Linked DNA regions of Homo sapiens. The protein of the gene in region 2 purifies or fractionates together with the protein of the main gene of each other region. This does not show direct contact. Each region holds a gene or a part of one and is shown on either strand. Other genes may lie near its edges. The genes, in order: STOML1, SLAMF1, ATP1A3, UFSP2, ATP2B2, ANTXR1 and HEATR1.

Evidence for each region.
Region 1: the proteins of SLAMF1 (region 2) and STOML1 purify together in Homo sapiens (affinity purification with mass spectrometry; 2 studies listed by BioGRID and IntAct, with this or other methods). This does not show direct contact.
Region 3: the proteins of SLAMF1 (region 2) and ATP1A3 purify together in Homo sapiens (affinity purification with mass spectrometry; 2 studies listed by BioGRID and IntAct, with this or other methods). This does not show direct contact.
Region 4: the proteins of SLAMF1 (region 2) and UFSP2 purify together in Homo sapiens (affinity purification with mass spectrometry; 2 studies listed by BioGRID and IntAct, with this or other methods). This does not show direct contact.
Region 5: the proteins of SLAMF1 (region 2) and ATP2B2 purify together in Homo sapiens (affinity purification with mass spectrometry; 2 studies listed by BioGRID and IntAct, with this or other methods). This does not show direct contact.
Region 6: the proteins of SLAMF1 (region 2) and ANTXR1 purify together in Homo sapiens (affinity purification with mass spectrometry; 2 studies listed by BioGRID and IntAct, with this or other methods). This does not show direct contact.
Region 7: the proteins of SLAMF1 (region 2) and HEATR1 purify together in Homo sapiens (affinity purification with mass spectrometry; 2 studies listed by BioGRID and IntAct, with this or other methods). This does not show direct contact.

The regions. Positions count from the first base shown.
Region 1 is NC_000015.10:73,978,426-73,982,295, forward strand, and holds the end of STOML1 (stomatin-like protein 1), read right to left. Parts: 3' UTR 501-3,870; downstream 1-500. UniProt on the Homo sapiens protein: May play a role in cholesterol transfer to late endosomes. May play a role in modulating membrane acid-sensing ion channels. Can specifically inhibit proton-gated current of ASIC1 isoform 1. Can increase inactivation speed of ASIC3.
Region 2 is NC_000001.11:160,640,545-160,644,044, forward strand, and holds part of SLAMF1 (signaling lymphocytic activation molecule isoform b precursor), read right to left. Parts: intron 1-3,500.
Region 3 is NC_000019.10:41,987,731-41,991,230, forward strand, and holds part of ATP1A3 (sodium/potassium-transporting ATPase subunit alpha-3), read right to left. Parts: intron 872-3,500; coding exon of another isoform or gene 833-871; coding exon 746-832; intron 648-745; coding exon 588-647; intron 410-587; coding exon 206-409; intron 1-205. UniProt on the Homo sapiens protein: This is the catalytic component of the active enzyme, which catalyzes the hydrolysis of ATP coupled with the exchange of sodium and potassium ions across the plasma membrane.
Region 4 is NC_000004.12:185,399,037-185,401,964, forward strand, and holds the end of UFSP2 (ufm1-specific protease 2), read right to left. Parts: intron 1,688-2,928; exon of another isoform or gene 1,443-1,687; coding exon 1,356-1,442; 3' UTR 982-1,355; coding exon of another isoform or gene 981-981; 3' UTR 742-980; coding exon of another isoform or gene 534-741; 3' UTR 501-533; downstream 1-500. Other genes in the region: ANKRD37 (ankyrin repeat domain-containing protein 37), read left to right, coding at 534-741. UniProt on the Homo sapiens protein: Thiol-dependent isopeptidase that specifically cleaves UFM1, a ubiquitin-like modifier protein, from conjugated proteins, such as CD274/PD-L1, CYB5R3, DDRGK1, MRE11, RPL26/uL24, TRIP4 and RPL26/uL24.
Region 5 is NC_000003.12:10,323,523-10,327,586, reverse strand, and holds the end of ATP2B2 (plasma membrane calcium-transporting ATPase 2), read left to right. Parts: 3' UTR 1-3,564; downstream 3,565-4,064. UniProt on the Homo sapiens protein: ATP-driven Ca(2+) ion pump involved in the maintenance of basal intracellular Ca(2+) levels in specialized cells of cerebellar circuit and vestibular and cochlear systems.
Region 6 is NC_000002.12:69,180,679-69,184,178, reverse strand, and holds part of ANTXR1 (anthrax toxin receptor 1 isoform 1 precursor), read right to left. Parts: intron 2,394-3,500; coding exon 2,298-2,393; intron 1,687-2,297; coding exon 1,519-1,686; intron 1-1,518. UniProt on the Homo sapiens protein: Plays a role in cell attachment and migration. Interacts with extracellular matrix proteins and with the actin cytoskeleton and thereby plays an important role in normal extracellular matrix (ECM) homeostasis.
Region 7 is NC_000001.11:236,556,017-236,559,516, forward strand, and holds part of HEATR1 (HEAT repeat-containing protein 1), read right to left. Parts: intron 3,120-3,500; coding exon 2,979-3,119; intron 2,514-2,978; coding exon 2,221-2,513; intron 1,330-2,220; coding exon 1,179-1,329; intron 243-1,178; coding exon 84-242; intron 1-83. UniProt on the Homo sapiens protein: Ribosome biogenesis factor; required for recruitment of Myc to nucleoli. Involved in nucleolar processing of pre-18S ribosomal RNA. Required for optimal pre-ribosomal RNA transcription by RNA polymerase I.

The DNA.
Region 1 (3,870 bases), on a different chromosome or scaffold from region 2:
TTGAGCCCAGGAGGTTGAGGCTGCAGTGAGCCAGGATTGTGCCTCTGCACTCAGCCTAGGCAACGTATGGAGAGTCTCTCTCTCTCTTTTTTCTTTCTTTCTTCTTCTTTTAAGAGATCAGGTCTTGCTGTGTTGTCCAGGCTGGCCTCGAACTTCTGGGCTCAACTGATCCTCCCTTAGCCTCCCAAGTACCTGGGAATATAGGCATGTGTCACTGCATCCAGCTATACTAAGAACTTTTAAAGCTCAACAATATTAATAGCCCATTTCTTAAATAAGCAAAATATTGAACAGATAGTTCACAAAAGAAGACACGTGCCCAATAAGCAAATTAAAAGTGGCTCAACATTGTCAGTCACACCTGTTAGAGTGGCTAAAGTTTAAAAGACTGACTATACCGCATGTTGACAGGACCACTTTGGAAATGTTTGACAGTTTTTCAATCCAGCAATTCTAGGTATTTACCCAGATGAAAATATATGTCCAAACAAAGACTTGTACACAGATGTCTGGAGGAGCTTTATTTAATAACCAAACCTGAAAACTACTCAAATGTTCATCAATGGATGAATGAATACATTGTGCCTCTATCTAGACAATGGAATGTGTTGGCAATACAACAAACTACAGATACACAGAATAACATGTATTACTCTCAAAACCATTACAGTGAGGGGGAAAAAGCTAGACACAGAAGAGTACTGTGCACTCATTTCATTCATATGAAATGCTAGAAAAGTGAAATGTGATCAGCGGTTATGGAAAGGTCAGTGGCTGCTCAAAGCTGGAGGTGGCAAGCACTGACGGGAAGTGACGTGGAGAACTTTGTGAGTGGATGGGAATGTTTTGTATTTGATTGTAGGGGGTGGTGGTTACTCAGGTGTTCACATTTGTCAAAGCACCTCAGATGACACTTTTTATTTTATCTTTATTTATTTAATTTTGAGATGGAGTCTCACTCTGTTGCCCAGGCTAAAGTGCAGTGGCATGATCTCAACTCACTGCAACTTCCACCTCCTGGGTTCAAGCAATTCTCCTGTCTCAGCCTCCCGAGTAGCTGGGACTACAGCCGTGTACCACCATGCCTGGCTAAATTTTGTATTTTTAGTAGAGATGGGGTTTCACCATATCGGTCAGGCTGGTCTCAAACTCCTGACCTCAGGTGATCCACCTGCCTCGGCCTCCCAAAGTGCTGGGATTAGAGGCGCAAGCCAGCCAAATAATACATTTTAAAAGGGTGTTTGTTGTATGTAAATTACACCTTTAAAAAATATGTAAATGCTAGGGGAAGAGAAACCAAACCAAACCAAACCCTGTTCTTTGCTGGAGCTAGAAATCCAAGACTTACAAAGCAATAAACAATTGGACAATAAACAGGCTGGGCTAGATGGCTCATGCCTGTAATCCTAGCAGTTAGCGGGCCAGGGCCAGGTGGGAGGATCACTTGAGGCCAGGAGTTAGAGACCAGCTTGAGAAGGCCCTGTCTCTACAAAAAAAAAAAAAAAAAAAAAGCCAGGCATGGTGATCCTTTAAGCCTGGGAGGTTGAGGCTGCAGTGAGCCACAATCACTGCACTGCACTCCAGCCTGGGAGACAGAGTGAGACCCTGTCTCAAAACAAACAAACAAAAAACAAAAAAATAACTTGAACAATAAACAAAAAAATTACACTGAGATACAAATTTTCACTTTCCAGAATGTCAAAAGACCCAAAAGTTTAATAACACAGTGTATTGACATGACTATGAGAAAAAAACACCACTGACAATGGGAGTGTAAATTGGTATAATCCCCAGAGAAGGTATTCTGGCAATATTTACTAAATTATAAATGCTTTGATTTAGCAATTCCACTTCTAGGATTTTATCTTATAGATAAACTCTACCACAAATAGCACATGTTAAAGGTTATTCATTGCAAAAGTATTTAAAATAGCAAAACACAAGAAATAATCAAAATGTCTATCGGTCCACGACAGGTTGAATAATTTATGATACATCCATACTGTGGAATCCTATGTAAGTACAAGAAAGCACAGGGAAAGGCTGTCTGTGGTAACATGGAAAGATCCTCAGTGGGTAATGTTAAGTGAAAAAGGCAACATTGTGTTTCTATGTTGCCATTTGTATAAAAACAGGAACAACAAAAACCCAGAAGATACATATTTGGATTTTCTTGCATATATTTTTTTTTAAAAAACAAAACCTTCAGGAAGAATTACCAAGAAACTAATCGCAGGGGATGGGGGAAGGCATGGGAAATATGTGTGGAGGGAGAATTTTCATAATATGCTTTCCTATCTTTTTAAATGTTTAGCCAACCAAAATTTAAATATTGGCTGGGTACAGTGGCTCACACCTGTAATCCCAGCACTTTGGGAGGCTGTGGTGGGAGGATCCTGCGAGCCCAGGAGTTCAAGACCAGCCTGAGCAACATGGGGAGACATCCTTATCTCTACAAAAGAGATTTTAAAAATTAGCCGGTTGTGGTGGCACAACCTGTGGTCCCAGCTACTCAGGAAGCTGAGGCAAGAGGATCGTTTGAGCCCCAGAGTTCAAGGCTACAGTGAGCTATGATCATGCCACTGCACTCCAGCCTGGGTGATAGAGCAAGACGGTCTAAAAAATTTTTTTTAAATGCTTAAAAATAAGGCCAGGTGCGGTGGCTCACACCTATAATCCCAGCACTTTGGGAGGCCTAGGCAGGCAGATCACTTGAGGTCAGGAGTTCGAGACCAGCCTGGTCAACATGGTGAAATCCCATCTCTACTAAAAATACAAAAATTAACCAGGTGTGGTGGTATGCGCCTATAATCCTGGCTACTCAGGTGTCTGAGGCAGGAGAATCACTTGAATCCGGGAGGTAGAGGTTGCAGTGAGCTGAGATTGTACTGTACTCTAACATGGGCAACAGAGTAAGACTCTTGTTTCAAAAAAAAATAAAATACTTTTCAATAACATCAAAATAACACATTATATATTAATATATTAACTAGGATACTTAAACTATTATCATTATTCACCAGGTTATCTTGAAGAAAAATATAATAAGAAGTGTCTAGTCCGGTATAAGGACATATTTGGCACACAGTAATGGTTACTATTTCTATACCCTGCCCCTCAAATGCCCGCACACAACCTGTCTGGTACTTCAGGTTCTAGTTCCCCGAAGCCCAGTTGCCTGACTGCCTCTTCCAGCTGTGCCCTTGCAGGGACTTCTCCTCTGCTGAATGATTTTCCCCATCTCTTCTTATTGTCCACCTACTTGGTAGCTGGGATGTGGAGGACATCACCTCCTCAGGAAAGCCTTCTCTGATTGACACACACCCTCCTCCTCCCTCTTCACACCGACCCTTTAGGTGGCCCTTGTCCTTCCTCCCCTGTGGACTGCAGGGTCTGCTCAGTCCTCTGTAGTCCTGGAGTGCTGGCCAAGGATCGAGCTCCCCTCCACAGGGTGGGGATTCATGGCAGGGGCAGGCCTTACTCTCCACCTACACAGACATCCAGAAAAGTTTCGGTTTCCCCTAAACGTTATGTTGATCTTCCCATGCTCACAAAGAAGAGTTTGGGTTTCCCCTAAGTTGTGATCTCATTTTTCCTGTCTTCCCTACCCTCCAGCCCTACCCCAGCCAAGGGGCCGTGCCAGCTTTCATGGTGAAGATGCCTGGGGTTTCCTGGGCAGCCCTTCATATACTGTGTAATAGCAATGGAAGGAATCCACAGGTGAATGCTGATGCAGGAAGCTCCCAGTCCAGCAGGGAGGGCAGCCATATATGCAAGGAGCAGAAACACACAATGTGGAATGGGTGCAGAGAGCCAGGCAAGGGCACAGAGGACAAGTCTCACTGGGCCTCAAAGGGTGGCCACAGTGTG
Region 2 (3,500 bases):
AGTAATGCAGCTACCTAGAAGAGACTCTTTCACAACTGACTTGTGGCTAAGATGAGCTATTGGAAAATTGGACACACTGGCCCAAATATTCTTGTCACCAAAATACCCCGAAATCCCCATGTTGCTCAGTAAAGGGCTCAGCTAATAGTAGACTAGAGATTCAGTGATTGGGGAAGAAGAAAAAGAAGTCTATCTGGGCTAAAATCTGGCCTAGAGTGATTGAAATTCTTAATTGTTGAGGAAAAGTGAGAAAGGCAATTAGGCATTTGTCTTTTAAAATATTGCGAATATATTAAGCTTAAAACAGAGTGCTCTCCCCTGCTGCTTGATGACATGAGGAACATTATAGTTATTGTGGTGGTGGTGGTTGTTTTTACATTAATATACTGGGAAGCATGTTGGATTTTCTTCCACCACACTTATGGATGCCTGACTGTCTAGATAATGTGACCCCTTTGGTGGCTACATACCTGACTTGTAGGCACAGTACCTAAAAGAGTAACTTCTTGAATCCTGAACCTAAACTTCTGTGTATAAAGAAATGAGAAAAAATTTAAAGCCATATGTGCAAGTATGAACTTCCAGACTTTTGTATAAAAAGTTGTATAGATGAGCGTATACATATTTTTCTGGGAGCACATCCATAAATGCCATCTCTTAAAGGGATCTGAGATTCAAAACAAGATTAAAAATTGCTAGCGTAGTGTTGATTTTTAAAGACCAACTTTGATAGGGAGAAAAAAAGAATAAAAAATCCCATTTTCAGGCCATAACCCATCGCCACCACTCCCCAAAATGGCTCCCATGCACTCCTTCCCCACCTAACCTTGCACACTCTTTGCGCCATGGTTGCTTTCAGAACTTGGAGTTGATTGGGGGAGGAGAAAGAGGGATATAAGAGAGGTAGGGAATAACCAAAAAAATAAAAAAATAAAAAAATAAAATAAACGAAAGAACATAGAAGGAGAAAGAGGAAGAGGAAAAGGGAGGGGTAGATGAGAGAGGCTGAGTGGTTTTATGCACACTCAGTCATGAGGAGTGGAACCAAAACTTCATCAGGAAGAGACCCTTATACCCCACAACCCACATAAAGAATGATGACGCAATACCTGAGTGTGTGAGTGTTGGGGTCTGGAGGGGGTACTTGAGATCACCCTCACATAAGCACAAGGTGGAAAAATAAGTGGGGGCTTTAAAGTGGTTCATAAAACCCCTCGAGTGGCGTCCCTGCTCCTGAAACATCCTGCTAGATGAGTGTTTTCCAGTGTGTCTGTGATTCAGCCAGCCCTTATTTACTAAAAGAGTCTGGGAGGAAACATTTGTAGCTGTTAACACCAACTCACTTTCCTTCATGGGTAATTCTACTTCGAAAAATGAGTGATTCACATGGGCCTATGGAGTTTGGTCAAAAATTATTAATAGTAGGATTTAGCCAACCCTCTCACAAGATGGGCTTCTACCTAATGATAACTCTTTTTGTTTTATTGTATTATATTTTTTTGCCTAGCCCTGACACTTTCATATGTGCTTTTAGCATCTTGCTACAGTATTCTTTCAGGTACAGAAGGAACAGAACTTACAGACCCCACAGTTCTTTTGGTAAATTTAGGCTCAGAAAGAAAAGACATCTTGTCTGTGTTTGCTTTTTAAACTGTATCCCCATCAGTCAAAGTCCTATTTTTATTATTTGGCACTGCTGGGTCTTTCTATCTTAGACTATTAGTATGTACGTTCCCTAGCCTTAGAGGCTATAACCACTCTTTATTTGCCTAGCTAACAACTTCCATCTTTCTGGTCTCCATTTTGACATCTCTTTCATAGGGAAGACTTTCCTGACTCCTGACTTAGGTTGGGTTTTCCTGTCACAGACTTCCAATGGACAATGAACGCACTCCTTCATATCATTCATCACGTGTTCAACTCTGGTTCAATGCCTGTAATCCCCCACTCTTATAAGCTTCCAAGAGTAGGGACTGTGTCTGTTTTATTCACTACAGTATCCCTAACACCCACCTGGGACATAGTAGGAGCTCAGTAAATCCTTGTTGCCCAAGTGAATTAATAAAACAGAATGGGATGAATGAAAAATGAGCAAATGACAACACAGAGTCCAAGTTCTCCTCCCTCCAAAAGCAGAATGTACTCTGATTTGCCTTTATAGTATCCCTAAGAGGTATATTATGGAAGAAAGTGGTGGGGACCCTTTTCCCCACTTGCCAGCTGAGGACATGGAAGTGCCTTAAATATAAACCCTAGGTTTCAGGTACAACAGACAACTTGCCAAGAACACTTGAAACCCTTTACCTCTGCATTTGTGCCTCCTTCTAGAACGCTCCTTCTCAAGTTCCATAAAAATCAAGCCCATCGGACCCATTTATTTGGGGCTAAGTTTTTAATATTCATTTTTATTAACTTTATCCCAAATGTGCACATGAGATATACTGGATTAGAGTTAAATTTCTTATTAAATGACTCACAGTAAATAGTAAATGCTTTGGCCCCCCACTTCCCCCTAGGATGATGTGATAAGAGCAAGGTCAATTGCTCTATGTGAGTAAACAGACACTCCATAGGTAAGAAACAAGGACAAATTATTTTCCCTACCTATAAAAGAGGGAGGAGGCAGCTATCCCCCCTCCCCGTCTTAAAGGTCTGCTCCTTATTCCAACACTTTGGTAGGTAGATAAATCTCTCCAGGAGCCAGATAGTCCGTTACATGTCTTGGCTTTTATGGCAAGTCCTGGGACTTGACTCCAAGTTCTGGGGCTCATTCCTTCTTGCATGCTGCATAATGATGGCACAAGCTTATGCTGGCCTGCTTAGGAAGATAGTGACTCCAGGCTTCATGGCACCCTGGGCGCTCTACCTAGGGACCTTGTTCAGGCTATAACCATTTGCTCCTCTCGGGAAAAATTTTATTATTCGTTTGGATCAGAGCAATTACCTATGCAAATAACTACAGATTTAATTCTTATGGTATGAAAAAATGTCAGAGCTAGTACTCTTCACCAGGACACTGAAAAGTCGAGAGAAGTTTTATTTCCCCACCCTCTTTATCTCTGATTTCTTCTCTGCCATGTTAAAAAATTGATACATAATAGATGTATATATTTTCAGGGCACATGTGCTGTCTGATACACTCACATGTTGTGTAAAGATCAAATCGGGTTAATTGGGATATGTATCACCTTGAGTATTTCTCTTTTCTTTATGCTAAGAACATTTGAATTATTCTCTTCCAGTTATTTTGATATGTACAATAGATTATTGTTAACTATAGTCACCGTACTGATCTATCAAACACGAAGACCTATACATTTGGAAAGACACACAAGAAACTGGTCACAGTGGTTGCCTCCAGCATGAGGTATGGAAGGGAAATTAGTCTTCACTAAATACTCTTGTGTACTGTTGAAGTTTCATAGACATGACATGTTTTATAGATGTGATAATCAATAAACAAACTAGTTAACAAAAAAAAATTAAATGAACATTTGCAT
Region 3 (3,500 bases), on a different chromosome or scaffold from region 2:
TGGGGCCTTGGACAAGTAGCCTGGCTTTTCTGAGCCTCAGTTTGCCTTGTATTTGATCTGGTTCTCTTGCTGGGTGATTGTGAGTTAGATGGGAAAAAGGGGGAGAGTGGGCTGTGAAAAGCTTAGAGGGATGGGAAGAAGTTGGGGTGCGGTGTCCGTAAATAAATGTGCAGAGCCTTGCACAGGGCAGGGTCCAGGCACTCACGTTGTCACCAGAGGGGTCGTCCTCGGTGCCCGCCTGGATACCGTAGGCCAGGAAGCAGAGGATAGCCCCGATCCACAGCAGGATGGAGAAGCCCCCGAAGAGCTGCCGGCAAAACTTGACCCACTCTGGGGTGGTAGGCGGTGGCGTGAGTGCGTTAGGCCCATCCCGGGCCAGGATCTCCTGGGCTTTGCTGTGGGTCAAACCCTGAGGGACAGAGGACTCACACAGAACCCTCCCTGGGCAACCCTGGCACCCCAGGCCTTCACCAGACCCCCAGAACTTAAGACACCAGCCACAGCCCCTCCTCCCTCAGACCCAGGGGTCCTAGCCCCCAGCTCCTCCTCCCTAGTTCCCAGGGTCCCAGCCCACAGCCTGGCCACACCTGCACACAGTCTGTGTTGTATTTCCGGCAGACCTCTTCCACTGACATCTTGTGCTCTGTCTGAGGAACAGGAGTTTGGGGGAGACGGTGAGTGCCTAGGCCAGCCAAGAACTGGCGAGGTTCTCTGGGAGGGTGTGCGGGCAGAGGGCGAGGCTTACCATAGCCACCTCCTTCTTGAGGTCATCCAGGTCCCGGCGCTCCTTGCCCTTGTTCTTCTTGGGTGAGTCCTTGTCATCTTTCTTGTCCTGCGAGGTGGCGATACGATAGCTGTCAGAGCCACCAGACTGCGGGCGAGAAGGGGTTCCAGGAGGACACCGGCCCTCCATGCCCCAGCTATCCTCCTGGCCGGTGCCCCTGCATCTCTGGGTGGGGGGTCTCTGTCTGCCTCTCGGGGTCTCCCTGTGTCTCCCGGAGCCTCTGGGTGACTTCACCTCCCTTCTGCCTCTGGTGACTCTCAGGCCTCGTGAGTCTCATCTGCTGCAATCAGCTTCCCTGTCTCTGGTTCTGTGTGTCTCTGAGTCTCTGTCCCCGAAGGTCCCTGTCTGGCTTCTGCCTGTGTTTCAGTCTCTCTCTGTTTCTGTGCCCATCTTTGCGGGGCTCTCCCCTTTTGTGTTCTGTGTCTATGTGACTTTGTTTTCGTTTTTTGAAACAATGTCTCACTCTGATGCCCAGGCTGGAGTGCAGCAATCACAGCTCACTGCAGCCTCGACTTCTGAGGCTCAGGTGATCCTCCCGCCTCCGCCTCCTGTGTAGCTGGGACTACAGGTGTGTGCCACCACGCCCGGCTAATTTTTAATTTTTTTCTAGAAATGGGGTCTCACTACACTGCCCAGGCTGGTCTCTAACTCCTGGACTCAAGCGATCCTCCTGCTTTAGCCTCCCAAACTGTTGGGATTATAGGAATAAGCCACCGTGCCCCACCTCTATGTGACATTTTAACTCTGCTTCTGTCTCTTCTTCCCTCTCCCTGGCCCTGTCCAACCTTCCTACATATCTGTCTTTTTTTTTTTTTTTTTTTTGAGACGGAGTCTCGCTTAGTCGCCTAGGCTGGAGTGCAGTGGCATGATCTCAGCTCACTGCAAGCTCCGCCTCCCAGGTTCACGCCATTCTCCTGCCTCAGCCTCCCGAGTAGCTGGGACTACAGGCGCCCGCCACTACGCCCGGCTCATTTTTTTGTATTTTTAGTAGAGACAGGGTTTCACTGTGTTAGCCAGGATGGTCGCAATCTCCTGACCTCGTGATCCGCCCGTCTCGGCCTCCCAAAGTGCTGGGATTACAGGCGTGAGCCACCGTGCCCGGCCTCGTATCTGTCTTTTCTATGTCTCCACGTGTATCTCCATCTCTTTCTCCTCTGTCTGTCTCCCTTGATGTGTATCTCCAGGTCTGTTTTTGGCTCTTGGTCTTATTGCTTTGTTTCATCATCTCTCTGTCTCCTGTCTCTTTATCTCTCCATCTCTGTATCTCTGTCTTTGCAAGGCTGTTTCTCTCTCTTGATAGCTCTCTCTCTCTCTCTATCGCTCTGATCTCTTTATGTTGTCTCTGTCATTCTCTATCCTGATCCCAGTCTCTGGGTCTCTCTGCATGTGTCTTTCTATGATTTTGTCTCTCTCTGATCTCTGGTTCTTTGTCTCTCTGCCTTGCATGATGTCTGTCTCCATCTCTTGGCTGTGTCTCCCCAGGTCTGGCTGAGTTTCTGTCTCTCTGGGTTCTTATTTCCCTCTGAGTTGGCGTCTCAAGGATCAGTACTTTCTGTCTCTGTCTTTTTCCGTCTTTCGGTCTGTCTCTCTCTGTCATTGTGTCTCTATCTTCATCTCTCAAGCTGTCTCCTCTGGGATGCTCACATCTCTCCCTACCTGTCTCTTTTCCTGTTTCAACCTCTCTCTGTCTCTCTCTCTGTCTCTCTAATATCTCTCTCTGGGATCTGCCTATCTCTGTCTCTCTCCCACTCTCTCTCTCTGGGATCTCCTCTCTATCTCTGAATCTCTCTTTCTCTCTCACTATCACTAAGATCTCCTCTCTTTCTCTTTCTCTCTCTCTCTCTCCCTCTCTCTGTCTCTCTCAAATCTTCCGTCCCCCTCCTTCCCCATATATCTCTCATTCTCTTTCTCTCTCTCCCTCTCTCTGTCTCTCTCAAATCTTCCGTCCCCCTCCTTCCCCATATATCTCTCATTCTCTTTCTCTCTCTCCCTCTCTCTGTCTCTCTCAAATCTTCCGTCCCCCTCCTTCCCCATATATCTCTCATTCTCTTTCTCTCTCTTACTACCTCATCCTGGAATTTTCCTCTCTGTCTCTCTTTCTCCCACTGTCTCTCTCTGGGCTCTCCTCAATCTCTCTCTCTCTTTCTCTCTCTCTCTGTCCATATATATATATATATATATCTGTCTCTTTTTGTAGGATCTTCCTCTCTCTTTCGCTGTCTGTCTCTGGGATCTTCCTCTCTCTCTCTGTCTCTTTCTCTCACTTTCTCTCTGGGATCTTATTCTCTATTTCTGTCTCTCTGAGATCTCCTCTCTCTGTCTCTGGAATCTGCCTCTCTATCTCTGTCTATGTCTCTCTGTCTCTGTCTCTCTCACTGTCTCCCTCTGGTACCTTCCTCTATCTCTGTCTCTGCCTCTCTCTGGGATCTTCCATGTGTTGGGCCCATGGAGCGTCCTTAACAGAGGCTGGGCATGGCCAGGTTCCTGGAGGACAGAGCAGGAGAGTTAGAGGCAGAAGCCCTAGTCCTGGCTTGAACTGCGCATGGTGTGAGTCCCTGAAGTTCCAGTTTGGGAGCCTGGGCGGATGGGGAGGGCAGTGTCCGAGGCTGGTGGGAGGGGTGGGGCGAGGCTGGGTGCTGCAGGGGCCGCTGACAGGTCCCGCAGGCCCAGGGCCAAGCTGGGATCGGAGGCTCAGCGCGGCTCAGCGCTAATCTCC
Region 4 (2,928 bases), on a different chromosome or scaffold from region 2:
GAAAACAGTGGCTTCACATTTTATGTTTTCTTGGATTAAACTAATCAGACTCCTGAAGCTTAGTTACATGTGCTTTTAAAAATAATGCTTGCGTAATTGATAATTTAGTGTTAATCATTTAAATGTTAACTTAGGTTGTTGGTGCTATCGAATAATACTCAGTTCGAGTAAGTAAAAAGTCAGATCCTGAGCAATCAGAGGTGCAATTTTGTTCATTATGACTGTATTCTACTTCAGTTTCGGTTCAGGAAAACCCATTCTATAGTTCCCATTGACTACCTTTGGGTACTCATACACTGTATTAAACATCAGATAATTCTAACATTCATTCAGAACTGGAATGCCCGCTCTATGCTGGATTCTGTTAGTTGCTGAGGATACAATAGTGACCAAAAATGCAATTTCCTTATGCATCCTTTACCTCTTCTGTTCTGCAACCAACATTTGTATGAGCCCAAAATTCCCTTGTAAGATATAAAAAAAAAGACTTAAGTTCAATGTTTCATTTCACTCCGTTTTTATCCTGTTTTCAGTTTATGTAATAAGAACGGGCAAACAGCTGAAGATCTCGCTTGGTCATGTGGATTTCCAGACTGTGCCAAGTTTCTTACAACAATTAAATGTATGCAGACAATAAAAGCAAGTGAACACCCTGACAGGAATGATTGTGTTGCCGTGCTCAGACAGAAACGGAGTCTCGGAAGTGTAGAAAATACCAGTGGGAAAAGGAAGTGCTGGTAAGTAACTCAGAGCTGCTGCTTTTTTCCTCCCGCAGTGATCTCTTGTTTGCATAGCATTTATTATTCCATTTAATACTGACACTCGTATTTCTAGTAGTATTGTTTCATTCTCATTAACATTTTAGTACTGGTTATACTTACCAGAGTCTAGAGACCAAAAATGGGACTGCATGGTGGAAGTTTGGGGATAAAACTCTTTTTAAAAAAAAGTTTTTAATGTTAACGTGTTTTTAAAAACAGATGTCACGTGGGTTATGAAGAAGTCTGAAGAACGCCTTCATTTCATGCAAATCTATAAGCTCCTGCTTTTGGCTTTACCATATGTTGTGTCTAATCTCCTTCTGAGAAGGACGAAAAACTTTCTTCCAAGTGAAGATCCATTTAAGAACACATGTATTTACATGCCTATAATATGCTGGTTGTGTATGCTTTGTCTTTTAAGTTATTAAAGGAACGTCTAAAAAATACATTCTCCGTGCAGTATTTACAACCTTTGAAAAAGGTCATAATTTAAATCGTCAAACTAGAACCAGGATTTAATGTGAAAAATTAAACTGATTCTTTATTCACAAATTTATAATACCACTCTACTGCAGTCTTTGACTCCAAGATATTTTAAATCATATTTGGTCGCTGAGGAAGACATAAGTTATAGTATGCATCCTTGTTCCAAAAATCTGGGCCCTTCCATCCGCACCAGCCCTGGATAGAGAAGACGGGAAAGGAAAGCCTTTTACAAAGTTACAAGATTATGTCATGGAAATCGTGACATCAGGCTCTGTCAGCAGGACCTTGGAATAAGACTCTAAATGGCTTTATCATTCAAGGATTTGAATTCCTACTAGCATAGAAAAGTAACGTATCTTACCCTTTAAGGTAGGTTTTTGAACTTTTAATTCTATGTATGTAATTCATCATAAAAATCATTAAAAAAAATTTACCTGTAACTGTTATTCCAGATACCACACTTTACTGATTCTGAGATGTATAGTTTTACCACTTGCAACTGATAGCATGTGACAATTGAACTAGCAATCTGTTTTTCTTAATAGTCCATAAAGGACTGTAAGAGACCATTCAGTGGCATCTTAGGATTGAAGTACTGTAGTGAGAAACCTCAGCTTGCCCCCTGCCTGGCACTCTGTGCCCTTTCATTTTCAAATTCCAGGTGTTACTCAATTCTACTTCCCATGTTTCATGTCAGTATTAATCCTTTTTGCCAGCAGAGAAAATTACTTTCAAGCAAAATCTCATTTAGAGTATGAAAATTTCTCAGATTTCTCCTAGGGCCACTGAGTTATTTTATTAAAGAAGAAAACTTAAAAGCCAATAACTGGTCTGTATTATATGATTCTTAAATGCTTTGAGAAATCCTTGCAAGGAGGCTGAGACTCTGAAAATACCATGAAGTGAGTGACAAGCAGCGGTCTGACTCCCTCCTAATAAGATACACGTTGTCAAAAAACAAGATAAAAGTAAAAAATCCTCTACCAGTCCTAGGTAATCCCCCACTCTCCCTAGGTAACCAGCATTCTATTAATCATCTCATTTTTTCAGCAAAACTTTCTCTATTAATTTAATGTCCTAAAATCTGTTCTCTTAACAGACAGAGAAAAAAGGCTCATTCTGTTTTAACCTTTTTTTGATCCTTTTACACATGAAGGCCTTGTCCAGGTAACCAGATCCAGATTTTTTAAAGGAGAAATTGGTAGAGAGGGTGTCAGAATGGGATTGCATAGGGACATAGTGCATAGGACATGCTTCTTTCCTGTGAGATGACCAGCATGGGAACTTCAAACAGGAAAGCACCACAAGAAGGCAAAGAGGTCAGGCAGAGATGGAACTCTCCTCTGGCCTCCTGGGTTCCTGGAGTCAAGTGAATCAATAGTTTTAATGGCAGGACCTTGGCTGCACAGTTTCTTGTGTATACAAATAGAGCAAGGAGGTTTCTGCTGTTGAAAAGTTCTATAGAAATAGAACTAGCAAAGATGGAGATTGCAATTCTCAGAGAAAGAAATCAGGGACAATCCCTTACTCTAATTGTTCAGAAACCTTACCTAGATAATGCCATGTAGTGCAGAGCCCCTTGAGTCAACCAGAAAAGAGAAATTTGATGATGAAAATAATTAAGGCTTCTCCCTGCCTTTAAGAAAAAATCGAAATGCCTGGTTCACAAAGACCACCCTTT
Region 5 (4,064 bases), on a different chromosome or scaffold from region 2:
GGTAGTGTTGAAATATTATAAATGGTATTGTGTTGATTTTTTTTTTTATTTAGTAACTTACAGGTTTGTTTCCTTATTAATGGCAGCATCTGAGCTGTTGGCATATTGGATGAGGATCAGTATGGCTTGCTGCTTTTATTTTTATTTTTGAAGAAGAATAGCCTTTTTCTCTGCACTATTTAGATCCGAATGAACCTTATGATGTGTATATTGAGATGTACTCAGTGTGATTTTAAACCAAATTGTCTTCCTGTAGTCACAATATATACTGTAGCCTTTTAACAGCAAGTCTTGCTTTCCCAAACAGAAAGCCATTCTGAAACCCTACAGTATCACAGGTGAGAAAAGGTGGTTATTTTTTCCCCAAGACAACAGCACTAGTAATCCCACTTAATAAGAGCTTATTTAATTGGATGTCAGCCTCTTAACTGCTAAGCACTTTGTGGGTCTCAGCGTTTTTCATAAAAGAACTTTTGTATTTAATACAAAGTTTGCTTTGAGACTTTTCAGCATATGATCTTTTTTCCATAAACTTGTACAGTGCAAAAGACATTTTGAATACCATGATCGATGATGTCCCATGCTTCGAGGAAAACCAAACACTTTCCGCCTCTCTTGCAAAATCCATTCCTCATGCTGACCCTCCTCACGATGGCTGTGTCAGCCCAGCCCCTTCCCTTCTCCAGGCCCAGAGAACTCTTCCACAAACAAGATGAGAGCCACTCGGGAAAAGAGCCATAGTCAACTGGGAGGGCCTACATCTGGATGGCGGTGGAAAAACTTGAGGGTTTGGGGTTCAAAGTCAGCCCATCCCACCTGGCAAAATCCTCCTGGAAGGAGGACCTTCAAGAGCGCATCACCTGAATGTCGTGAAGAAGTATCTCTGAATGTATCCAGGAGAGGAACTGCATAACCAAAGGGGTGACCAGCCCTCAGATGTGCTTATTGGATTCCAGTACAAACGCCACCAAAGCCAGCCCACTGCTCTCCTACAAGGAAGGAAAGATCTGCACGTGTAAAACATGGGGCAGCCTTGGAACATGGTGTTTTTTGGAGTTTCCTTTCTCACAGTTTTCCATCTCCCCACTTCTTTGATCAGTCATGTGTCCGTGACCTCGTTCCATGACATCAGGATAGCTGTGTTTGCACACCATGCTCCATGTTCATTCGGAGCCAGGAGGGGTTCTCAGTGGAGCCTGGCTTAGGGAACAGGGAGCGATGGAAGAATGCCAACATTAGCGTTGGTCTTCTCTTGTCAGGAATGAAGGATGCTTGCACACATGCACCCCCTCACTCTCACACTTGCACACATACACACACACACACACGAAATGGTTGGTTTGTCAAAACTCACTGTAGTACATAAAGCTTGCACTCTGCGTCCTATATCTAGCAGCATGGGGTACGTTTGGCAGTTCACTCCATTAGGGGGTAAATAATTTATGACCATTCATCTGTTTTTATGAATTTTTTTATCTAGACAATAATGTAAATAAAGAACTCACCATCTCTGTTCATTTAATACTATGCAATGGTTATGCTTTCAATCGCTGGCTCTTCTGACTCGTGCAGTGTGGTTCTGAAATGTTTGTGGTTTAAAAAAAAAAGCAAAAAACAACATCAAACAGAACATAGTAAATATATCTGTAATGTATACTTTTTTCTACTTTGGGACTGCATCATCCACATAGCTTCTTTTCTGTCCTCTAGACAAGGGCTCCAGGAGTAAGTGGCAGATTTGGTTCTGAGAGCTAAGCTCACCAACTTGTCTCCCCCTCAACAGATGAGGGAAGGGCAGGGAGCCCGTTCAGTGACTCCTGGCGCTGCAGAATCACTCATCTTTGGAGGTGAGCAGAGAGAGCTCTGAGGAGTTTCCTTCTTGCAACTCAGGCGGAGCTTTCTTTAACTCAGGAGCAGCCTCCATTGCTCCCGCCAACCCCTCACCATGGCCCCTTGTCCCCTTGTCCCAACCATAGCATAGAGATGACAAGAGAGAGGCAGTCCTATTTCTGAGACTGGACCAATTAAAATGACTGCACTGGCTCAAAGGACTCTGAACCTGTCTTGTCCTGGGTCCTCCAGTTGTTGGAAGCCACTCTTTTCCCCAACCATGCTGAAATGCCACCTTTACCACACACTGATGTCTTACATAGACTTAGATCTATTTCTGGAACTTCTCTTCTCTTCGCTTACTTGGGTGTCTCATCTGGCACCAGCCATACAATTTTAACTATTGTCAATTTCTAATGTCTTATTATGTGGTGGGATGAGTCCCTTCACTCTTCTTTTACAAAATTTCCTAGTTATTCTCTCACATCTATTCTTCCACATAAACTTTAAATTGTGCCCAGTCCTCCACCCCCTGTCCCATTCCCACCCCCAAATTCTGGGCTCTGTCATTCCCTGTGCCATCATCTTCCCCCCATTGTAATTACTGTCCACTCAGGGCTGTGAAATAGACTATGTTCTGTAAAGAGGGACAAAAAGGGCATCCTGATCTTGAGAGAAGCCTGCTGTTCCTCCCATCATTTCACCTGCCCCCTAAGCCCAGGAGTTGTCATGAGAGGTCACCAGGCCCCCACTCAATCTCAGCTTGGGAACCAAAGTCACCCACCTTGGTTGTGTTGGGGTGGACCCGCCATCTGTCCCTGGTCCAGACGAGAAAGAGGAGTCTCTCCTAGGCCTGGAGCTGGGAAAGAATGTGTGGCCCAGTTGTCTGCACTTCTAATTCTCATCATGGAGAAACCTTTATTCCTATCTCCCTTTCCTGAACTGGTTTTTTGTTGTTTTTGTTTCATTTTGTTTTGGGGGGATAGTTTCTTGCTCTTTAATTTGGAGTCTCCAGTACCTTTGGGATGCAGGCAGTTCTTGCCTGGGCCTTCTCGGAACCCTCACTCCCCTAGCCCACTCTTGCGCTACCTGCAGGAGGCTGCCAACCTGGTGCATTCTGACAAGCCTCCCACCCAAATCTCTCTCCTGCCATTGTGTCCAAAATCCCACCATTAGAGGCTCTTGTAGGGAAGAGCGTTTCTTGAAGGCTTTTAGGCCTTCCAGAGCCAGGAGGGAAGTCAGACAATAGCAGGAAGTCCCCAGGCCTTTTCAAAGTTCCAAACCAAGCTCTCCTGATTTTAATGTAGAGATCATACCAACCCAGGTGGGGGAGGAGGGTCCCCAGCCCCAGGCAGCAGCCATCACCCCCTCCACTGAAAACAATATTGGAGGCTGCTTTGGGACTGCCCTTCTCAGCCCCCTAAGTCTGTTTTGTAATGCCTGTGGTGCTCTCCCTCCTGGACCTTTCCTCTCGGGGGTCACCACACTTTGCTAACTCTTGTGTGCACATATTTTATAATAGAGTAGCGAGGGAATGGTGCCGCCTCCAGCTTCCGTAAGCTGCCCGGGCTCTGGGGGGCTCTGGGACAATCGGGGCTGGGAAGTGACTGTGCTCTTATTGTACACTCTTTATTTCTCTGTATCTTTGGCTTGTGCTCTTTGTAATTAATGGGATTTGTCTGCCTTTTCAACACTATACTGAGCAATAACAATAAATGCACACGTGGAAATGCAGACACGGTACACATCACAAGGCCTTTTTCTGAAGGACAGCTGGGTCCCCGCCCTTCGTGGAGTTGAACTCAGGGGGAAACTGAGTCCCTGGGAGGGAAATGCACTTTGCCCAAGGGCCCACAGCTCAGCGGGCAGTCTCTCTCCTTCCACTAGATCACACCTTTTGAACACCCACCATTTGAGGGAGACAGGCTCACCCTGCCATGAGCCATTAACCTATGAGGAATGGTTGACCATCTCATAGAAGAAGACTGGGGAACGGGGCCTCAGGACGAAGCGGAGGAGGTTTGGGGGCAAGGGGTGGGGGGGCAAAAATCAGGGAAAGTTGGCCTGATTTGGGGTCTGGATTAACCAGAGGGAGGAGATGCGGAATACAGACACTGGATCTAGGTGGCACCCCCCTACTGGGGAGAGGGGTAAGGCAGAGGGAAGCCTGGCACCTGAGGAGTCTGGACTTCACAAACCTCTGCTGAACATTGGCAGAGAAAGAGAATATGCCC
Region 6 (3,500 bases), on a different chromosome or scaffold from region 2:
TTTTGATTTGTTGGAGAAGCCCTGATCCAAAATTAGCAAATTAACTCAGCGAATGATGAAAATAATCTTTGTTGCTATTGGAAGGGGGGTAAGGCTGTGTGTGTGTGTGTGTGTGAGTGTGTGTATGTGTATGGATGGTGATGGGAGCTGGCTCTATTGAGTCTTTGACTTGAGGCTTTGGAGTTGGTTCGGTTCTGTTTGCAGCTTGAAACTGGAGTCTGTAGCCCTGAGTTGGGGGCCTTGTTTTCCAGACCTCAGCAGAACAAGGACTTTGCCTATCTCAGTATGAAATCAGAGAGTGGGGACAGATTATGTCTAGAGTCTTTTCAGCTATAATTTTCCAGTGCTCTCTGACAAGTGGCATAGTGCAGATGTTTATGGGCATGGCTAAAGATTGAAGGTGTTAACTGAATCATGTGAATTCAAAGCCATTTGGACCAAGAAGAATAGAAAAGAGGCCTTCAGGCTGGGCATGGTGGCCCATGCCTGTAATCTTAGCACTTTGGGAGGCCGAGGTGGGCAGACTGCTTTATCAGGAGTGCAAGACAGGCCTGGGCAACATAGTGAAATCCGTCCCTCAAAAAAAAAAAAAAAAAAAAAAAAACAAAAATTAGCTGGGTGTGGTGGTGCGTGCCCGTAGTCCCAGCTACTTGGGGGTTGAGGTGGGAGGATGGCTTGAGCCTGGGAGGTCGAGGTTGCAGTGAGCAGAGATCACACAACTGCACTCCAGCCTGGGTGACAGAGTGAGAACCTGTCTCAAAAAATAAATAAATAGAAAATAAAAAAGAGGCCTTTAGGAAACATTAACTGCCTCCAACGGTTTACACTTCCCAATAAACCAAAGAGGATTTTAAGATCTGGAGGTGTGGGGGAAAGACAGATGGTGGAGAAAAAAGATTTGCTTACAACCAGAAAGAGTGAGTCCTAGATCCATGACCAGTGAGATTTGCTGGTGGGCCCTGATACACTGGCAGGAGGCGCAAATAAAAGGGAATGGGCTTATATTATGGCAAAAGGAGTAGAGATTAGCATTAAGGAGAAGGCTGCCATTTTTCTTAGATAGTAGATTGTCTGCTAAGTGAAGTTATGAGATGCTATGGAAATTTATAGTCACTCTCTGGGGTTACTACCCAAGTTACTTGACTCACAGTCCATGCTTTTTCCAGTACCTTGCCATGGTGATTTTTTTTTTTTTTTTAATATGGAACACTTCACGAATTTGCATGTCATCCTTGCCCAGGGGTCATGCTAATCTTCTCTATATTGTTCCAGTTTTACTATATGTGCTGCAGAAGTGAGCACCACGGTGATTTTTAAAAAGCCTAGTTTTCAACCCAGATTATGTGGAAATTGACAAAGTAATTACTAGTACTTTCAAGTCCATAATTTTAGATAATTGTTCCCCTGTGATAAGCTGGGTTTTAGGTTGGGATTTTATCATGTGGAAAGATTTTGATTCTTCACTATGTAAGTGTTTTATCAGGACTGATGATAGATTTTTTGAGTAAAGAGACACACCTTGATTGGAGAGTACCACTTCCGGGGGGAAGAAGGCCGACGCATATTGTTGTTGAGATTTCGCGGCTCAGGGAATTCATATTCCTGCTCCGGCATCTTGACTCTTGCATTCTTTGCCTTTTCCAACTTAGCACCTTCTTCTGTGGAGCCCTTTTCTCCCCAACGAACCTAAAATAAACAAAATACAATGAAATGAAATGACAAAATATGCTGCCCCTCGAGAATGAGAATGACAAATACATGCATGAGTTGCAATGTGAATGCTACCCAACCCTGGATTCCTTTGGGTTTTGAGGGCCAGGGAAGAGGGAAACTGTGGAAAAAGAGAAAAGGGGAGGACCAAAGGAGCAGAGAGCTGAGCCACATGGGTGGATATTTAGGGAGGAATTGTCCAGGCAGCGGGGACAGCACATGCAAAGACCTTGCAGGTTCAGGTACGAACTTTGGATTTTATTCCAGTGAGAAAAGAAATCACGAGGACGTTTGAGCTGATGTGTGACCTGCTCTGACTCACGGTGGGCAAGACATGGAAACGCACAGTGAAAGGCTGTCCCTCCTATCTCTCCATCCGTCTGCCTTACAATCCATATCCCCACCAGACCTCAAGGAGGTTTTCAGCAATTTGCTTTGGGTTTCTGACATTGAGTCATCAGTGTGGTCTACGGCCATACTGCCCTGGGCATGCCTGATATCTAGAGGCTAAGCAGGGTCAGGCCCGGCTGGTACCTCGATGGGAGTAGTCAGCACATAGATAAGTGTATATGAAGCTGTCCTCTTACCTCCATTCTTTTAATGCCTCCAACGCCTCTCCCACCATAATAAGAGGCGTCTACCGTTGGCCACTTTTTCTTAGGCAGACCATCATCATCTTCTTCCTGCAGAGAAATTGTGGCACATGAAGGAAGCAAAACAGCACTGCTGTGTGGACCTGCCTACTACAGCCAAGTGATTAGGAGTAGAGCTTATAGAGTCAGACTGCCTGGGTGCAATCCCAGTGCTACTGTTTCCTAGAACCTTGGGCCAATCACTGAAACCACCTAAGCTTGTTTTCCTTATCTGTAGAGTGGGAATGTAAGCAGTGCTACCTGGTAAGTTTGTGGTACAGTCCTGTTCTCTTGTTCTCTTCTACAGCTCTACTCCTTTGTGGGAATCGCATCTAACCCCACCTACATGCTAATGACTTGTGACTTTACATCTTCAGCCCTGATGCTTCTGAACTCCAACTGCTCACTTGACATTCACATTATTTGGGGGCTAAAAAACATCTCAACAACACCACAGCAGAGATGTCCTGATTTCCCTACCCTAAACATGCTCCTCCTGTAGTCTTCCCCACTGCCTCTCTCTTCTTTACTGCCTCTCCCCAACTTGTCCCAACTTGCCAGCTAGTTCTGTTGCTACTACTTAAAGATCTAAAATCTGTTGACTTCTCCATCCCCACCACCACTATCCTGGGCCCAAGCCCCCATGCACTTGCTCATGGACACTGTGGTAGCTTCCCAACTGGCCTCCTGCTGCCCTAAGACTCACCTATGATCTGTTCTCCACAAAGCAGCAGAGTAAGTGCAAACGCCAGCTCTGCCCTGTGTGTTCTGGCCTTTGCTCACCTTTCTGGCCTTCTTCCTTATCATGTGCCCCCCTCCTCCTGAGCTCCAGCCTGCCTGCCCTCTCTCAAATACTCTGGGCAAATTCCTGTCTTGGGGCCTGTGCACAGTGTCCCCTTGTCCCCTTGTCTAGGAAAGCACTTCCCCCACCCCATCTTCTGATGGATGGATTTTCATATTACTCCTCAGAGAAACCTCCCCTGGAAATTTCTTCTAAAGTAGCCGCGGTCTCTTCATTCCATCAATCTGTTTTATTTTTAGTTAAGGATCTCATCATGGCTTGATATTTACTTAATATCTGTCTCTCCACACTAGAACGTACGTTCCACAGAGGCTTTTGTTTGTCATGCTTACAATTGTATTCCCAGTCTTTAGAAT
Region 7 (3,500 bases), about 76 Mb from region 2:
AATCTTCTTCTTTAAGTCAAAGTTTACACATTGCAGTACCACCTCTCCCTTCTCCAAAGTCTTAATACCCAATAAGATCTAACCTTCCAGTTCTTCTCAATCTGCTTGTAAGTTTTTTTGATGGCGGGCAACAGGACTCGGGGTGCAAGTGTGGTAGCCAGTGTCTTTTTAAGAGATGTGAGACGGATATTAGCCTGTGACGCAGAACCCATTTCACTAGTGATTTTCTCCAGATGAATCACCTACAGGAATATAAAAAAAGTGATCAGGGCCACTGCAGATCTTCGCTGACAAACACACACTTACAGAGAGGCTTCATGATGAGGTACTAGTGTTTGGAAAATGCTTAGCACTTTTTAACTACACACAGAATTCCTTTTAAAGTCAGCCCTAAACGTCAGTGGATAAAACTGGGCAGACACCTCTTGCCCAACTTGCGATCAGGGACGAAGGCCGATGGTAGACGCAGACGCACACACAGCACCCAGACAGATGATTTTCTTAGAGGACAGGAATGCAAGGGACCACGGCAAGAGTCAAGTTGCTAAAAAACTGAGAAAGCTCCTCAGAGCACAGGCCCCTTTCTCTGAGAAGGCTACTTTTAAACCCTGGCTGTGGTGTAAGTGAAGCGGTTTAATCATTTGCCCCATGGTAATGAAGGCTCCTAACCTTGTAAATGGCAAATGATCAACACAATGGAACAGCCAGGTCTCAACATTCTTGAGCATCTTCAATCATAAATACCACTGGCCCCTAGCGTGTTGACAGGAAACCGCTGACGTGCAATACAAAAATTCTGCTTTGCAAGATGCCTTAGGATTATACCTCTCACAGTAGAAACAGGGCCCATCAATTTCCACAAGTAATAAAAGGCGGCTCTACCAGCCCAACTCCAAAGATCTCACAGAAGAAAAAAAAGCCAGAATACATTCCGCACAATTAAAGAAGAGAAGCATCTCGCTAAAAAGTGACCCCCATATCAATTTCAAGATTAAGTGGCAAGGATGATGGAAGAGAAAAAGTACACATTTAATAAAAGCAAGCACATCTCTTCAGAAATAAGACTCCTTTCTGTCAAACGGAAACTAACCCTTAAAGAAAAAACAAAATCACTACATTTGTGATCTTTTACCTTCCCCAGCCACCCTGCGTAGCATGTCGTGGCTATCGTGGCTCACCTGGGAGAGAATGCCTTCCAGATAGGGGCTGATGAAGTGCGGGAGAGTCTCCACAACCTTCTGCAGAGCAGCCAAGGCACTGAGCAGGTAGACCTCGCTGGAGACCAGCTCGCTGGTGTTCTTCATTGTTGTCAGCAACGATGGCATCAGGCTAGAAACAAAGTAAGAGCTTTAGAAGAACTTGAAGCAGAAACAGAGGCTAGGGAATGGAGTAGAGGGCATTATGAAAAAAACCAGCAAACTGTGCCTATTACATCGCTATCTGCTTCATAGCCTAAAAAGCAGTGTCTATACATTTTATGTGGCTAAGCACAAGAAATCTCCCAGTGCTAACAGTACGGACACAACAGTAATTTAAAAAATAACAATGTCTTTCATTAACTGAACACTTACTATGTGTCAGGCACTATGCAAAACTCCTTGCAAGCACTGCCCTACAGAAATCCTATGAGGTAGATACTGTCTCTGTTTTATAGACAGCAAAGCTCTAACAGGTTAAGGAACATACTGGCTGTACAGTAAGGAACTACCACAGCCAGGAGCTTCTAACTTCCAAATTTGGCAGCAGAAGGCAGCTTTGGCCTTGCCTAACTGGGTGGGCCCCTCTGCCAAGAACCTTCACCCACTGCTTTTTGACTATACTAGACAAAAGGAAGGAAGAATGGAGGACGATTAACACTGCAAAGTAGTGCATCTGAAGATAAACGGGAAGGCTGCATCTTTCTGTTTGAAGATTAATTATTTTTATTATTATTTCTTTAAGAGACAGGGTCTCACTCTGTTGCCCAGGCTACAGTGCAGTGGTGCAGTCATAGCTCACTGCAGCCTCAAACTCCTGGGCTCAAACGATCTCCCTGCCTTGGCCTCCCAAAGTGGTGGGATCACAGCCGTGAGCCACCACACCCTGCAAGATCAATTCTTTAACAAATTCCAATTTTATGCAACGTCTACTCAGAGGAAAAAAAAAAAAAGTCACCAAAGTGTTATTTTTCAATGTGTGCCAGGCGGTAACAGCTCCTGTTCCAAGTCTCCGGCCGCATACCTGGGAAGCTGGGGGATGGCCAGCGCCTCCAGGGTGGAGGTCACCTCTGCTATGCACAGCAGCGCGCTTCCCAGGACATTCTTCTCCTCCTTTCTCTCTGGAGCAATCAGTTTCACAGCAGTGTTCAGCACTGGGACAAAAGGATCTGGATTTTCTGCACCAAAATTCTTGCATAAAAGCTTTAAGGTATACAACGCTGTCTGTCTGTTGATTGCTTGTTCTTCTTCCCCTTCCTTTTTCTTACGCTGCACAATGGCCAAAAGGTCTGGAACCAGTTTTAGGAAACGGGTAACCTGAAGGGGACAGCCAGAATCCCCAAATCATTAAAGCTGCAAAAAATGTTTGTCCATTTTCCCATTGTCACAGCTTGAGATTGTCTAAATGGAAATCAGACTCGGGGGTCCTGAGTCACACAGTCATGCTAAGCGATGTGCATGTTCTAGCCAGTGTTTCACTTATACAAAGCACCCACTGATCTGGAGTAAAAGGGACTTAGAACTATGCTAAGGCTAAGGCCACGTAAGCTCTGTAGTAAGCAAGAATTCCACTAGGCTGAAATTCCATTCTAAGAGCTCTTACAACACACATATATTCCCGTTAGAATTAACGTCACATTTTAAAACATGTCATGGTATTATATTCAGAAAATAATATACTTCAATTTGAAATTGTACCACTAGAGAAATTGAAGGGAGTTAAATGCAGCTCTTTGATAAAGCAAAGTACAGTAAATGGGTGTGTCCTGGGTCTTCACTCACTATTGTCTTCTTCCAGGATATATTTTGCTGCAGCTTGTTATTCAAAAGGTCCAGCGCTTTGCGGCGAACAGATGGCAGGGGATTGCCCACCAGCCCTCTGATCACAGGAATGAATGTCTCTGTGGGCAGCAAGGCATTGACCTAAAGAGAAATTTTATATTTAACATGAAAAGAAAAACAAATTAAAAAAAAAACCAACTTCAATTAAGACAGACTGCTGTCCACTGCACACCTCCAGGCACCAGGCACTTCCACACACATTTTCTTATTTAATTCTTAAAATAACCTTTCAGGTAGGCATTACCAACCACACATTATCGAACAAAACAAAAGCCTGATGTCAGGAGGAAGTGCCAAAGGCATGCAGCTAAATGACTGAGCTAGATTTGAATCAGCAATCCTAACTTCGAGGCCAGTGATATGTATGTAATATACTTCATACTTTTATTTTATTCCACTTGAATAAAGTAGAACAGTATATATTATATGACTTAATTATTAAAATATACGAGGTACATGTTC